Linked DNA regions of Homo sapiens: region 2 is linked to region 1. A link means that fine-mapping ties the variant in region 1 to the expression of a gene that starts in the linked region. Tissue or cell type: whole blood. Region 1 holds a variant in brackets; the other region holds the start of a gene. All regions are shown on one strand. Distances are from middle to middle.

Region 1 (8,103 bases):
GGAGTTCGAGACCTGCCTGACCAACATGGAGAAAACCCATCTCTAGTGAAAATACAAAATTAGCAGGGCATGGTGGCACATGCCTGTAATCCCAGCTACTCAGGAGCCTGAGGCAGGACAATCACTTGGACCCAGGAGGCGAAGGTTGCGGTGAGCCAAGATGGCGTGATAGCCCTCCAGCCTGGGCAACAAGAGCAAAACTCTGTCTCAAAAATAAATAAATAAATAAATAAATAAAAATTAAATAAGCTCTTGCAACGGAATGAATGCTCCAAAAGGGAAATTAGAAGGCCGGTTGCGGTGGCTCACGCCTATAATCCCAATAGGAGACCGAGGTGGGCAGATCACCTGAGGCCAGGAGTTTGAGACCCACCTGGCCAACATGGTGAAACCCCTCTCTATTAAAAATACAAAAATTAGCCAGGCATGGGGCACGTGCCGGTCATCCCAGCTACTCAGGAGGCTGAGGCATGAGAATCGCTTGAACCGGGAAGGCAGAGGTTGCAGTAAGCTGAGATCACGGCCAGGCGTGGTGGCTCACGCCTGTAATCCCAGCACTTTGGGAGGCCCAGGCGGGCAGATCACGAGGTCAGGAGATTGAGACCATCCTGGCTAACACGGTGAAACCCTGTCTCTACTAAAAATACAAAAAAAATTAGCCAGGCGTGGTGGCGGGCGCCTGTAGTCCCAGCTACTCGGGAGGCTGAGGCAGGAGAATGGCGTGAACTTGGGAGGCAGAGCTTACAGTGAGCCGAGATCGCGCCACTGCACTCCAGCCTGGGTGACAGAGTGAGACTCCGTCTCAAAAAAAAGAAAAAAAAACACAAAAAGGCTGAGATCACATCACTGCACTCCAGCCTGGACGACAGAGTAAGACTCTGTCTCAAAAAATAAAAAATTAAAAATTAAAAAAAAGAAATGGTTTTGCCTGGGAAAGGGGCAAGCTGGGAGCTTCTCCCCTGCTAGCCTAGAGCTGTGTTTTCAGAGCTGTGTTGCAGAAGCAAACTGTTCGCCCCCTCCCCTTATTCAGACCAACCAACATGCCAACTAAGACCAACCTGTCCTTCAGCAGGGTGCTCAGTTGCAGGGGATATTGAAGTGTAAGAAATGGACTTTGCCTCTAAAAGATTTACAACCTACTGGGAACTGAATAAAAATATATGTGAAACAAGTAAAATACTTCAAGGTAGGTACACATTTGAAGACTAAGTATGCTATGCCCACCAAGGTTTTTGGTTTTTGGTTTTATAGAGACAAGGTCTCACTATGTTGCCCAGACTGGCCTTGAACTCCTGGGCTCAAGCCATCCTCTAGCCTCAGCTTCCCAAATTGCTTTGATTACAGGCATGAACTACCATGCCTGGTCACCAATTAAGATTTTTGGATGCACTCAGGAAAGCTAATTCTATGGAGACAGTAGTACTGTTGTAACGACCCAAGGGGTTCACTTTGCCTGAGCCAACTCATCAAGACAGGGGAATTGCAACAGAGAAAGAGTAATTCACGCAGAGCCAGCTGTGCAGGATACCGGAGTTTTATTATTACTCAAGTCAGTTTCCCCAAGCATTGGGGGAGCAGAGTTTTTGTTGTTGGTGGTGGTGTTTTGGTTTTTTGTTTTGTTTTGTTCTGAGACGGAGTCTCGCTCTGCCACCTAGGCTGGAGTGTGGTGGCGCAATCTCAGCTCACTGCGGTCTCCACCTCCTGGGCTCAGGGAATTCTGCCTCAGCACCCAGAGTAGCTGGGATTACAGGCATGCGCCACCATGCCCAGCTAATTTTGTATTTTTAGTAGAGACGGGGTTTCACCATGTTGGCCAGGCTGGTCTCGAACTCCTGACCTCAGGTGATCCACCCGCCTCTGCCTCCCAAAGTGCTGGGATTACAGGCATGAGCCACCATGCCCAGTCGGGGAGCAGAGTTTTTAAGAATAACTTGGTGATTTGGGGGAAGCCAGTGAGCCAGGAGTGCTGACTGGTCAGGGATGAAATCATAGGCCGTCGATGTTGTCTTCTTGCTCTGAGTCAGTTCCTGGATGGGGGCCACAAGATCAGGTGAGCCAGTTTATCGACCTGGGTGGGGCCAGCTGATCCATCAAGTGCAGGGTCTGCAAAATATCTCAAGCACTGATCTTAGGAGCAGTTTAGGGAGGGTCAGAATCTTGTATCCTCCAGCTGCATGACTCCTAAACCATAATTATTTATAATCTTGCAGCTAATGTTAGTCCTACAGAGGCAACCTAGTCCCTAGGCAAGAAGGAAGATGGTCTGCTTTGGGAAAGGGCTGTTATCGTCTTTGTTTTATGTATTGTATGTATGTACGTATGTATTTATTTTCGAGACAGAGTCTCTCTCTGTTGCCTAGGCTGGAGTGCAGCGGTGCAATCTCTGCCTTCTGGGTTCAAGCAATTCTCCTGTCTCAGCCTCCCTGGTAGCTAGGACTACAGTCACACGCCACCATGCTCAGCTGATTTTTGTATTTTTAGTAGAAACGGGGTTTCACCATATTGGTCAGATTGGTCTCGAACTCCTGACCTCAAGTGATCCACCCACCTCGGCCTCTCAAAGTGCTGGGATTACAGGCATGAGCCACTGTGCCCAGCCATTGTCTTTGTTTCACTGTAAATTATAAATAAATTTCTCCCAAAGTTAGTTCAGCCTACGCCCAGGAATGAACAAGGACAGCTTGGAGGTTAAAAACAAGATGGAGTTGGTTAAGTTAGATCACTTTCACTGTATCAGTTATAATATTGCAAAGGTGGTTTCACTGTCTTTGGGAAGACCTCACAGGAGAGATGGAATTTTGTGCAGTTTGACTTGAAAAAAGTAGTGTTTGGCTGGGGAATGGAAAAGAGCCTCTTAGGCAAGGAACAGCTTGGTAACATTTGGGAACGGGTGTGAGTTCTGAGAAAGGAAATGAAGCCCTGGCATGTGGTAGTGGGCCTGGTACTATCAGCTAGGCCTTGATGTTCCACTGAAGTAAATAATTTCACAATACATGAACACCAGACAAGGCTACTCTGTGGCCATGATAAACCAAGAGAAAAACATCATCACAGCCGGGCATGGTGGCTCACGCCTATAATCCCAGGGAGGCCGAGGCAGGTGGGTCATGAGGTCAGCAGTTCAAGACTAGCCTGGCCAAGATGGTGAAACCCCGTCTCTACTAAAAACACAAAAATTAGCCAGGCACGGTGGCAGGTGCCTGTAATCCCAGCTACTCGGCAGGCTGAGGCAGGAGAATCGCTTGAACTCAGGGGCGGAGGTTGCAGTGAGCTGAAATCACACCACTGCACTCCAGCCTGGGCGACAGAGTAAGACTCCGTCTCAAAAAAAAAAACAAAAAACAAAACACAACACCATCATCACGGCCGGGCACAGTGGCTCATGCCTGTAATCCCAGCACTTTTGGAGGCTGAGGCGGGAAGATCATGAGGTCAGGAGTTCAAGGCCAGCCTGACCAACATGATGAAATCCCGTCTCTACTAAAATTACAAAATTTAGTTTGGCATGGTGGCATGCGCCTGTAATCCCAGCTACTCAGGAGGCTGAGGCAGGAGAATTGCTTGAACCCAGGACGCGGAGTTTGCAGTGAGCCAAGATTGCGCCATTGCACTCCAGCCTGGGCAACAGAGCAAGACTCCATCTCAAAAAAAAAAAATTAGCTGGGTGTGGTGGCGCATGCCTGTAATCCCAGCTACTTGGAGGCTGAGGCAGGAGAATCGCTTAAACCCAGGAGATGGAGGTTGCAATGAGCAAAGATCATGCCACTGCACTCCAGCCCAGGCAACAGAGTGAGACTCTGTCTCAAAAAAAAAAAAAGAAAAGAAAAAAGAAAGCAAAAATGACGTCCAGATGTTTAGCTACCTGGAAATACCATTTATTGAGATGAGGTAAACTGTGAAAGAGACAGAAAAAGAAGGAAAGATCAAGAGTTCACCTTTGGACACATTGGATTTGAGATGCTGATGAGATGTCTGGGAGGATTTGTCAAGAAGGCAGGGTCATGCACTATTCTGGACATCACCAATGAACCCGAGTCCCAG[G/A]AAAAGGTATAGGAACCCTGCTCCTCAGCCTTGCAATGGGAGCTCTGTGCCCAAGGTGAGGTTGGACCAGGGTGGAGAAGGGGGAGGATGGGAACTCATGCGTAAGTTGCGTCTGTGGTACACCTGGCATTCCGCTCAGCACTCTGTCACCATGGCCTCACAACAACCTGGCAGAGTAGGACTTACTCTTCCCGTTTTACAAAGGAGGAGACTGAAAATCAGAGAGGTGCTAAGATTTGCAGAGGGACACAGCTAAGAACTGGGAAAGTGAGGACCGGTTGGTAACACTGAGCACCACAGCAGAGACCAGGTGTATTCGTTTCCCAGGGTGGCTGTAACCAGTTACTGTAAATGAGTGGCTTCAAATGACAGAAATATATTCTCTCACAGTTCTGGAGGCCAGAAATCCAAAATTAAAGTGTTGGCAGGGCCACACTCCCCAGGCTCCGGGGTAAAATTTTTTTTTTTTTTTTTTTTGAGATGGAGTCTTGTTCTGTCATCTAGGCTGGAGTGCAGTGGCATGATCACAGCTGACTGAAGCCTCAAATTCAAGGGATCCTCCTTCTTCAGCGTCCCCAGTAGCTGAGAGTACAGGTATGCACTGCCATGCCTGGCTAATTTTTTTTTTTTTAGTTTTTGTAGAGATGTTAACCAGGATGGTCTTGAACTTCCTGGCCTCAAGTGATCCTCCAGCCTCAGCCTCCTAAAGTGCTGGGATTACAGGCATGAGCCACTGCACCAAGCCTCGAATCTTTCCTTGCCTTTCTCCTAGCTTTTGTGGCTGCCAGCAATCTTTAGCATCCCTTGGTTTACAGCCTGTCATTCCAATCTCTGCCTCCATTTTCCCAGGATCTTCTCCTCTGTGCATCTATTTCTCTGTATCTGACCTCCTTCTCCTTCGCTCTTTTGTTTGTTTTTAGAGATGGGGTCTCACTGTGTTGCCCAGGCTGGTCTCGAACTCCTGGGCTCAAGAGATCCTCCCACCTCAGCCTCCCAAGTAACTGGCAAAATAGGCATGGGCCACCACGCTGGCTTGCCTTACTCTTTTTGGTATGTGCTTCACTTTTTTTTTTTTTTTTTTTTTTTGAGACAAAGTCTTGCTCTGTCGCCCAGGTTGGAGTGCAGTGGTACGATCTTGGCTCACTGCAACCTCTGCTCCCTGGGTTCAAGCAATTCTTGTGCCTCAGCCTCCTGAGTGGCTGGGATTATAGGTGTGCACCACCATAACCAGCTAATTTTTGTATTTTTAGTAGAGACAGGGTTTCAGCATGTTAACCAGGCTGGTCTCGAACTCCTGGGGTCAAGTGATCCGCCTGCCTCAGCCTCCCAAAGTGCTGGGATTACAAGTGTGAGCCACCACACCTGGCCAATGTGCCTTACTCTTATTAGGACACTTGCCATTGGATTTAAGTCCTACCTGGATAATCCTGGATGATCACCTCACTTAAAAATTCCGAATTAGGTTAGGTGCAGTGCCTCAAGCCTGTGATCCCAGCACTTTGGGAAGCTGAGATGGGTAGATCTCTTGAGCCCAGGAATTGGAGACTGGCCTGGGCAACACAGTGACATACTGTCTCTACAAAAATATAAAAATTAGCTGGGTGTGATGGCATGTGGCCGTAGTTTTAGCTACTCAGGAGGCTGAGGTAGGAGGATCCATTGAGCTCAGAAGTTCAAGGTTGCAGTGAGCCATGTTCACGCCACTGCACTCCAGCCTGGGTGACAGATTGAGATCCTGTCTCAAACAAACCTTTTTTTTTTTTTTTTTTTTTTTGAGATGGAGTCTCGCTCTGTCCAGCCCAGGCTGGAGTGCAGTGGCGCAATCTCGGTTTACTGCAACCTCCAACTCCCGGGTTCCAGGAATTTTCCTGCCTCAGCCTCCCGAGTAGCTGGGTTACAGGCGCCCACCACCACACCCGGCTAATTTTTGTATTTTTAGTAGCAACAGGGTTTCATCATGTTGGGCAGACTGGCCTGGAACTCCTGACCTCAGGTGATCCCCCCACCTTGGCCTTCCAAAGTGCTGAGATTACAGGCATGAGCCACTGCACCTGCCAAAAACAAACCTTTAATTATATCCAAAAAGATCATTTTTCCACATAGAATAACATCCACAGGTTCTGGGGATTAGGATATGGACGTATCTTTTTAGGGACTACAGTCAACCCAGCTAGAGGAGCTAGAGGAGGCTGCAGCTGTTAGCCTTGGAAATCTTATAAAATGCTTCCTGAGCTTAAAAAGTAGGTAGCTTTTCCTACTTTTTCTTCATCCAGTTTCACAAATATGCCTCCTTGCAGGATGACCCAGCAGCTTAAATGCTGCCAACCCAAGTGTGGCTTGGTCTTCTAGACTGTGTATAATTATGACAAAACCCTCAGATTCTGAGTCCTTATGACACAGGGATAGTCAAGTATGAAGGGGAGGCCGGGCGCAGTGGCCCACGCCTGTAATCCCAGCACTTTGGGAGGCCGAGGCGGGTGGATCACTTGAGGTCGGGAGCCCGAGACCAGCCTGGCCAACATGGTGAAACCCCCTCTCTACTAAAAATACAAAATTACCTGGACGTGGTGGTGCATACTTGTAATCCCAGCTACTCAGGAGGCTGAGGCAGGAGAATTGCTTGAACCTGGGAGGCGGAGGTTGTGGTTGAGCCGAGATCGTGCCACTGCATTCCAGCCTGGGCAACAAGGGCAAAACTCTGTCTCAAAAAAAAAAAAAAGTCTTTGGGGATGTGCACTCACAATTTGGAGCACAGGGGAGGACGTGTGTGGATTTGTACAAAGACACCGCCCCACTGGGCCATGGGCTTCACCAACAAGAACCACAGCTACCCAGGTAGCTTGCCACCTTCCTCCCCATAGAGAAACTAAGCTGGGGTTTCTTGAGCAAGTTTTTTGTCATAGCGACAGGAGCCAACACAGGGCAGTGGAAAGGAGGGTGGAAAGAGGGAAATGTAAAGGAATGTAAATGTAGTTCTCCCAGCTCTGCTCACATGTGACTCATCCACCCATAGGGAACTAGCTTGGCTGTAACACAGACAGAATCATTTTTATTTCTGCCACTTGGGATTTTTGCCATCCTTGGAAGAGGGCTTTGGCATGAGAACAGTGAGAGGAAGGATCTACCAGAACTCAAAACCCTGGTTTCTGATTCTGGAGTTCCAGTTCTTTCTATGACGGTTTTCTAACCAGTGAGGACTTCTGAGAACAGCAAAGGGCTTCTTCACCATCATCATGAGACCTTATCAGTAACTAACATATCACCAGGAGATTATATCACAATGTCTGTTTGCAGAACACTTTACAGTTTACACATTTCACATATATTATTTCAGCACTCTGGCGATTGCTGTGCAAATCTGGCTGCCTAGAGAAGTTACCTGGCATTCTGTACATATGGTATTTTATGACATGATATTGATTTAGTGTGTGGATGGTGTCTCATCCCCCATATATAAAGACAGAGGTGAGGCTTGGGTTTGGTTTTTCTTTTTTTTTTTGGACAGGGTTTCTGTCACCCAGGCTGGAGTGTAGTAGTTCGATCTCAGCTCATTGGAGCCTCAACTTCCTGGGCATCGATCCTCCCACCTTAGCCTCCCAAGCAGTTGGAACTACAGGCGCAGACCACCACGCTGGGCTAATTTTTTTTTTTTTTTTTTTTGAGACAGCGCCTCACTCTGTCACCCAGGCTGGAGTGCAGTGGCGCGATCTCGGCTCACTGCAACCTCCGCCTCCTGGGTTCAAGCAATTCTCCTGCCTCAGCCTCCTGAGTAGCTGGGATTACTGGCACACCACCACGCCCGATTAATTGTTGTATTTTTAGTAGAGACAGGGTTTCACCATATTGGCCAGGCTGGTCTCGAACTCCTGACCTCAAGGGATCCACTCGTCTCGGCCTCCCAAAGTGCTGGGATTACAGCATGTGACACCATGCCCGCTTGAGGCTTGAGTGTGTGTGTGTGTGTTTTGTTTTGTTTTTTTGGTATTTATGAAGCTATTTGACACTTCCATCACTATCCAAATTTATATATATATGTATGTATAGTTGTTGTTTTTGTTTTGT
Region 2 (8,103 bases), 510 kb after region 1:
TGTGGGCAGCGGTAAGGACGCTCCCCGGTGTGGAGCCGCAAATGCCCACGCAGGTTGCCCCGCTGACGAAACGCCCGGCCACAGTGCGGGCACAGGAAAGGCTTTTCTCCTGTATGGAGCCTCATATGGTTCCGCAGGGAGCCCTGGTTGGCCAGGGGCCGCCCACACACAGGGCATGGGCAAGGGGCAGGGGCAGCTGGCACCTGGTGGGTCTTGCGATGCAGCCGCAGGGAGGGCCGGCGGGCAAAGGCCTTGCCACACTGGTCACAAGCAAAGGGCCGGGCACCTGAATGTACCACCTGGTGCTCTTTGAGGTCTCGCTGGGTGCCATAGGCCTTGTCGCATTGTGGACAGGGGAAGGGCCGCACCCCACGGTGGCCCAGCATATGGGCTTTGAAGCTCTCCTCTGAGCTATAGCTCTTGCCACACTCAGTGCAAAGAAAGGGCTTGTGGCCCGTGTGCACAAATGCGTGCTTCTTTAGGTGGCACAGCTGTAGGAATGCCTTGCCACACTCTCCACACCGGTACCGTCGCCCCTGCTTTGGGGAGCTTCCTGCTGGGCCAGGAGGGCTCCGCGAGAGTGTAGGGAAGCCAGACTGCTGGGCTCCAGGCTCTGGGGTCTTTGCTCTGGGTGGGCACTGATCACTGGGGCTGTGTAACTTCTTGGCCAGGTAGCCATGCGGCTGGGTGCCCCTGGCAGAAGATGAGAAACTGGCTCCACTGCCATCTGGGTCCTGCTGGGTAGCCGAATTGCTCTGAAGTTCAGGTGGCATCTGTGCCTGGGCCGGGCATTCCTCATCCACGTCGCCATCCTGAAGCAATGGGCCAAGTGGCTGGCTATCCTTGGAAATTCGGTCCTGGGTTGGGAACTTAAGTCCAGGGCTCACCATATTCTCTGCCTGGATGCCAGAGGGTGACTGGGAACCAGGATCTGCAAGGCAAGGATGGGGTACTGGGTTTAGGGAGCTTCAATGCAGATGGTGTTACCAGGGAATTACAGGATCAGATGTTTTCTCCCACCCAGCCCCTGAGCCTTAGAGGGAGCAATGATACCAATCTCTTCCCTGGAGCATGGGGTGCACACTCCATTTATCTTCCTGTCCAGCCTTAAGCGCCTTTTGGAGAAGCACTCCTGAGAGCCATGGGGTCCCAGCCATCTGGATAATCACTAGAATAAGGCCATCCCAGATGGAGAATCCCCTTGTTCGCCCCTGGAGACACATATTTAGGATGTGATTCAAGACCCCTTCCAGCCGGGCACGGTGGCTCACACCTGTTAAGCCTAGCATCTTGGGAGGCAGAGACAGGCAGATCACTTGAGGCCAGGAGTTCGAGACCAGCCTGGCTGACATGGTGAAACCCCATCTCTACTAAAAATGCAAAAAAATTAGCTGAGGCTGAGGCAGGAGAATCACCTGAACCTGGGAGGCAGAGGTTGCAGCGAGCTGAGACCACGCCATTGCACTCCAGCCTGGGCGACAGAGTGAGACTCCATCTCAAAAAAAAAAAAAAACAACAACAACAACAACAACAACAACAAAACAAAACAAAACAAAAAAACCCCTTCCCACCTTAGCTCATCTGTAATATAAAAGAACCCCCACGCCAGAGAGAAGAAACATGGGAGGCTGGAAACCGTGTACATACAAAGCTTACTCTCTTTCTTACTATTCCAGGAAGCTCTTAGGAAGGTAAAAGTTGCAAATATCTATATTGTTATTCCAAAGAACAGACCCGTCGCTCTTCAACAGAAAGCAATGAATGACAATTCATAGTCTGAGACTGTCCCTTGCCTGAAAATTCTAGCCTTGCTGTATGTACCAACCCTAAGCTATTCAGTCATAATCCTTACCCAATACTAATCAAGCCCCACCCTCCTATCCCATGTTGAAAGATCCACCTTAAAACAGATTTTGAAAAGCTACTAAGACTCTATAGTGTCCTTCCTTACCGCAATGAGCCATAAACTCTGCTTTGTCTTATCAACAGGTTGTTTTGGTGGGGAAATTGCTGGGAAACCAGCATTTATTTGACACATACCTATGCAAGGTTCTGCTGCATCCTCCCCAGGGGAGGCCACTTCCTGCTGTACAGCAGACTCCACTTCTGTCACCACTGCTACAGCTGCCTCTTTGTCCAGCCCAGGCTGGGTGAGACTTGGGCCCTCAGAGGAAGGCTGGGGCCACAGCAGCAGTTCAGAGCCTGGCAGCACCAGCTGGTACACTTGCAGATGAAGCCTCTCGCTGATCCGCACTGGGGCCACATTTCCCTCACTCTCCAGCCTGCCCCGTTGTACCAAGCTGCAAAGCAAAGTAACAGCCAGCTAGGAGATGCTCACTATTCAAGTGGTCTTCCCCGAAAGCCCCAGTCCCCAAGCAGTCTGGGTCCTAAAGGACGCCGTGCCTTTGGAACATTCACTGCAAAAGAGCACTGAATAGGAAATGACAGTCAGCACCGGGTTCCATCCCAAACCACAACAGAAAACCTCAAAGGAACGACACACTCTCCTCTGACTTACCTAGTCCAGCCAGAACTCTGCTCACAGGCACACACGTCTCCCCATGGGCCTAATGACAGGTTCTGAAATAAACCAACAAAAGTCCTTCTCAAATGTGTTCGAGGGGTCGGGTAGGAATAAAAAAAGAAACTAGATGAAACTTTCCTGGGACAAATTTAAGATGAAACTCCTGGAAGGTTAGAAGCCTCTGGTTCTCCTCTAACAGGACAGTGCTGTCTGATTCTTCATTCAGTAAGGACCAAAAAGTCTGTCTCCTCACCTCCCTCCCAAGGGTATGGAGAATTACTAAATTGAACACATTACTGTCTTCCAGTGAGTACTAAACAGAAAAAGTAATAAGGAACACCAGCTTTTTAAAATGGTATTTATTGGGCCAGGCGCGGGGGCTCACACCTGTAATCTCAGCACTTTGGGAGGCCCAGGCAGGCGGATTACTTGAGGCCAGGAGTTTGAGACCAGCCTCACCAACATGGTGAAACCCTGTCTCTACTAAAAATACAAAAATTAGCTGGGTGTGGTGGTGCACATCTGTAATCCCAGCTACTCGGGAGGCTGAGGCATGAGAATCACTTGAACCTGGGAAGTGGAGGTTGCAATAAGGCGAGATCGTGCCACTGCACTCCAGCCTGGGCGACAAAGCAAGACTGTCTAAGAAAAAAGAAAAATAAATAAAATAAAATGGTACTTATTGTGCAGTGAAACCTTTTATCTTCACTATTTCATCAGCTCCTCCATATAATCCCAAGAGAGCCACTGCTTTGTTTCACAGATGAATTAAATGCGGCACGTAATTTAACCAGCTAGGTGACAAAGCTGGAATTTGATCCCATGCTTTCTTAATTCCAAAAACCTTAGCTCTTGACCTTCCTCACTCACTGCTGACACTGTATGATTCCAGCTTTCAACAACTTTTCAAACCTCGATTCTTTAACTACTGCTGCTGAGAGGAGACAGTCCTGAAGAGAAGGGACAAGACTATCTCCTATCTCTTGAAATACTCTCTTTCTTCAAATTGAAAAGCTGTCTAGCAATGTCCAAACCTCCCCTACATTTTCAAGGGCGGAGGGAAGTCGCTCTATCCTTCAATACCTCCTCCTGCCGTGGCTTTACTCCCTCGCCCTTCTCCTTGGAGGCAGACTCCTCTTCCAGCGGCCCCCACAGCAGGCCGGGCTGCAGGGGGTCCCCGACACACCAGACCCCCAAGCGCTGTTCCTTGGCGAGTGAGGGGCCAAGGGCCAAGCCCCGGGGAAGGCTCTTTAAAGCGAGGATGTCTCGGGTCGGCTCGGGTGGGACGTCTTTGAGGCCCTGCGTACAGCCTTCTCCGGAAGGGTTCCATCCTAAGTCCAGGCCCAGGCGCGGCTCGCGGGCTGCAGAGAGAAGGGAAGACAGTGAGGGAGCCACCCAAGAAGGTGGGAGGTGGGGAAAAGTGTGGGAGGAAACCGCAGGTCCAGGTGGGCCTGCGGAGCCCGAGGGACAGGTGAGGGCTCTAAGGAGGGCCCTGAAAGTTTTGAGGAGGCTCAAGGGCTCTTCAGAAGCCCCCAGCGACTCTGAGGGCACTGGAGGATCCTGGGATCCGGAGGAGAGAAGACTGAGGAGAAAGCTGACCACAGAGCGTCAGATCCACCTGGGCCAAGGTTGAGGGTCGCGGACATCGCAGGTCACTCACCGAGTTGCAGCGCCTTCTTCCCCTCCAAGAGCAGCTCCTCCGCCTCCTCCATTCCGGGTCAGAAAGCCTCCCTACGCCGGAAGTGAGCTTCCTCTTCTCAGCTCCTCCAGGAAACAGTCACGGACTTCCAAATTTTTTTCTCAGGAAAGAAGCCTCAGAGCTGGACCTCATTGGTGCACAGGACTGGGAGTTTGGGAGTACTGGGGAGGCAGAACTCTGTCCGAGAGCAATGCGAACCTCGGATTCCGGAGGTGCACCAGTGATTCGACTAGCTGGGAAAGCGGAACTAATTGTTCCAGCCATCTCTTTGGGAGCGACGAGTCGGACAGTTATGCTGTTACCTCCCCGAGGCAGGAACTTAGGCGGGCATGTGCAGGAAGTGGGCGGGGCTCCTGGAAAGGCCATGTTTGGGGCCGGAAGTGGGTTGGAGGTGTGGCGGAAATGGTTGGGGATAGAAGAGAGCGGGAGGGGGCGGTTCCCGTTCCACCGCGGAGCCGGATGTTTGCCGAGCCTTGACAGGCGTGGCAGAGGGAGCAGTGCCCGAGCGCGGTGAGCTGCTGGGCGCGGGGTCTCCCCGGGTGGGGATGGGGAAAGGAAAGGAGCTGGCCAGGTCGTCCGAAGGGATGGGGTCCGGATGGGGAGGACCGGAGCAGATCCGAGGAGGGGAACGGGGGTGGAACTGGGCTCAGAGGCCTGGCCTTCCTGCAGGGTTTCTGCCCCATTTTGGCGCCTGCAATAAGAGGACTTAATCATTTTCACTACCTTCTTCCTGCCTTCCCCAGGGCAGAGTCCAGGCCGGATCGCTGTCATCCAGCAAGCCGGCGGGAGGGGGAAATCTCCCAGATCTGATCTGGCAAAGCACTAAGAAGAAGAAATTTGGGGGAAGTGTTCCTCCTTGCCACTTATTAGGCCACGCTTTCAGTTCAACTTATTTATTTTTTTAAGACGGAGTTTCACTCTTATTGCCCAGGCTGGAGTCTCGGTTCACTGCAACCTCCGCCTCCCGGATTCAAGCGATTCTCCTGCCTCAGCCTCCTGAGTAGCTGGGATTACAGGCGTCCGCCACCACGCCCGGCTAATTTTTGTATTTTTAGTAGAGACAGGGTTTCACCATGTTGGCCAGGCTGGTCTCGAACTCCTGACCTCGTGATCCTCCCGCCCCCGCCTCCCAAAGTGCTGGGATTATAGACGTGAGCCACTGCGCCCGGCCTCAGTTCAACTTCTTAATCTGTGAAACAGGATAATTGCAAAACGTAACCTGGGCTTTGTAAACCGTGAAGCTCTATGCAAACATAATTGTAGTTGAGAGTTGTAATTGCTGTTGTATTGTGGTGGGATTTGCAACTGGGAGGCCGATTCCAACGTTGAGAATATGATTTCTTTTCTTTTTTTTTTTTTAGACGGAGTCTCACTCTGTCGCCCAGGCTGGAGTGCAGTGGCGTGATCTCGGCTCACTGCAACCTCCGCCTCCCGGGTTCAAGCGATTCTTCTGCCTCAGCCTCCCAGGTAGCTGGGAGTACAGGCGCGCGCCACCACACCCGGCTAATTTTTGTATTTTTAGTAGAGATGGGGTTTCACCATCTTGGCCAGGTTGGTCTCCAAATCCTGACCTTGTGATCCGCCCGCCTCGGCCTCCCAAAGTGCTGGGATTACAGCCGTGAACCACCGTGCCCGGCTGGTCCTCTCTTTCCTCACTGTAAAATGAGCTTAGTAGAACATGCCTCATCAGTGCTATCGTGAGGTTGAGTTTGTGTCCCCAGTTCATGGTCCTATATAGGCCCTCAACAAGTGTGGGTTCCCTTCTTTACTTAGGAGATGAATTAATTGGTTCATTCATTCAACAAATGATAGCATCTACTATATATCAGGTGTCATTCTGAATAGACCAGAAGTTCTTAAACAGTGATTCTCAGAAGGTGTATGAACCTCTTAAAATTGCATACATCTCCTAAGTTTTCTTAGGGAAAAAGTCCACACATGTTACCAATTTCAGAAAAGTCTACAACTTCCTAAAAGTGATTGCCTAAGGTGATCCTTAAGATTTTTGTAAAGGTTTACCTGCTGAGAATGGAAAAATTAATCTCAGAGTTGGGTGTATTTTGCACAGAGTAGAGCAGGCTTGTGGGTGGCTGGTGTCTTAAACAGGCAGGATACTTCATTTCTACTACTTGATGTTAGAATTTCCCTGTGCTAGCTTCCTCACCCTCCCACTGAATGGGAGTTTAACTTCCAGGCTCAGAAGTTAAACTGTGGGTTGGGGGTAGTGGGAGGGGCCAGTCTGACTGGGAGATGGGAACCACTGGGCTTAGTTATGCTGGGAAAGGAGGTTATGTGGGGGCGTTGAGGGAGGTCATGTCTGGAAGAACTGACAGCATAGAAGAGCAGTCACTGGAAAAGAGGTGAAGTTCAAGTTCAGCTCCCTTTTAGATGGTGTCCTTCTCCCTCCTTCACATCCACCCCAGCTCCCAGCTGCTCCTTTTTTTTTTTTTTTTGAAACAGAGTTTTGCTCTTTTGCCCAGGCTGGAGTGAAGTAGCTTGATCTCAGCTCACTGCAACCTCCACCCCCTGGGTTCAAGTGATTCTCCTGCCTCAGCCACCTGAGTAGCTGGGATTACAGGCACCCACCACCATGCCTGGCTATTTTTTTTTTTTGTACTTTTAGTAGAGATGGGGTTTCACCATGTTGGCAAGGCTGGTCTTGAACTCCTGACCTCTGGTGACCCACCCACCTTGGGCTCCCAAAGTGCTAGGATTACAGGCATGAGCCACCGTGCCCGGCCCCGGCTGCTCCTTCTAATCCTGTTGTTCACTGCAGCACAAAGTATTTCTGAACACTGGAGAATTATATTTCTGGGAGGCGCCATTGCCTCTACAGAGGAGGAAATTTAGGCCCAAGTAGGAAAAGGACTTGCTCAGCATCTTTGCAGCTCACTGGCTTAGGCAGGATGATAATCCAGCTCTCCATACTACCTCATCATTTCATGGCATCAGCACCTACTTTGTGCAGAAAGATGTCTCTGGGATAGCTGTAGGTGGGGCTGAAGGAGCCCCTGGTCCCTGGGCAGTGACAGGCTGAATAGAAAGGGTAGAGAGAAGGCTCTGGCCTGGAGGGGGTTGCTTTGAGCTGGATTCTGTCTTTATTACCCAGCTGGAGGTCGCTATGGGGAGCAGCTCCCACAGCCTCCTGGCTGGATGGCAGGAAGCACATGTAGATATTGAAGGGTTGAAGGGTTGAAGGGTTGAAGGCTGAAGGGGAGTGAGGGAGCTGGGCTTTGGCATCACTCAGAGAAATGCATTCCTGACCGTGAGGGATCATTCTTCTCTGTGTTCTTGGGAAGGGATTATATTTTGGTGGTAACCAGGGGTAGTGGATGAGGACAGGGGACAGGGAGAGGAAGAAGAGGGTTTTTTTGGGCTGTTTTCGCTGGTTGGCTTTGGCTTGGGAGCATGAAACAGCGTTACCACTCAATCCGTGTGGTTGCCCTGGTGATAGGGTGGCTGTTGCTAGGCACAGGGAGAGGGCTCACCATCCAGGGCCCTTGGCTGTGATGTGATGTGTGCAGGAGGTTGTCAAGTGGCCTCAGAGCCCAGAGTCTGTGGCTCTGGGATGGCAGCTCTCCCCCTCTTCTTCCTGCCCACCCCCAGGGCTTGTCTGCTCTCCTTATCTGCCCTGCTGATTCTCTGACCATATATGTCAGTTTTGGGGCTCCAGGAATGCAGCTGGACATGGAGCAGCCTCTTCCCTGGGGTTAGACTGAATAGGTTGAACTAAAAACTGCCCTCCCTCATGTGGGGAGCTTGTGGCAGGAGGGGGAGTTGCTGCCCATTAGGGCTGAGGGCAGAGGTGCCTACCCCCAGGCTGCATGCGGCTGCAGCCTTCTGGCCAGATTCCAGACCTACAGAAACCCAGCTTGGTGGT

The links. PIP is the estimated chance that this variant, and not a neighbour inherited with it, causes the effect.
Region 2: it holds the start of ARHGAP1, and the variant in region 1 is fine-mapped to the expression of ARHGAP1 in whole blood (INTERVAL, PIP 0.95).

Annotation. Positions count from the first base shown.
Region 1 is chr11:47,203,704-47,211,806 of GRCh38, reverse strand. No RefSeq gene overlaps it. Among named protein-coding and RNA genes, the nearest start is that of DDB2, 7.2 kb to the left of the region's middle. RefSeq lists a silencer at 1,915-2,094. The variant G/A (reference allele first, on the strand shown) is at 4,042.
Region 2 is chr11:46,697,181-46,705,283 of GRCh38, reverse strand. It overlaps ARHGAP1 (Rho GTPase activating protein 1), which reads left to right and starts at 4,665. Exons shown (of 13, transcript NM_004308.5): 1 at 4,665-4,733. It overlaps ZNF408 (zinc finger protein 408), which reads right to left and starts at 4,253. Exons shown (of 5, transcript NM_024741.3): 1 at 4,185-4,253; 2 at 3,608-3,885; 3 at 2,519-2,580; 4 at 2,041-2,300; 5 at 1-931. The coding sequence starts at 4,236. RefSeq lists an enhancer at 4,170-4,459 and a silencer at 4,790-4,909.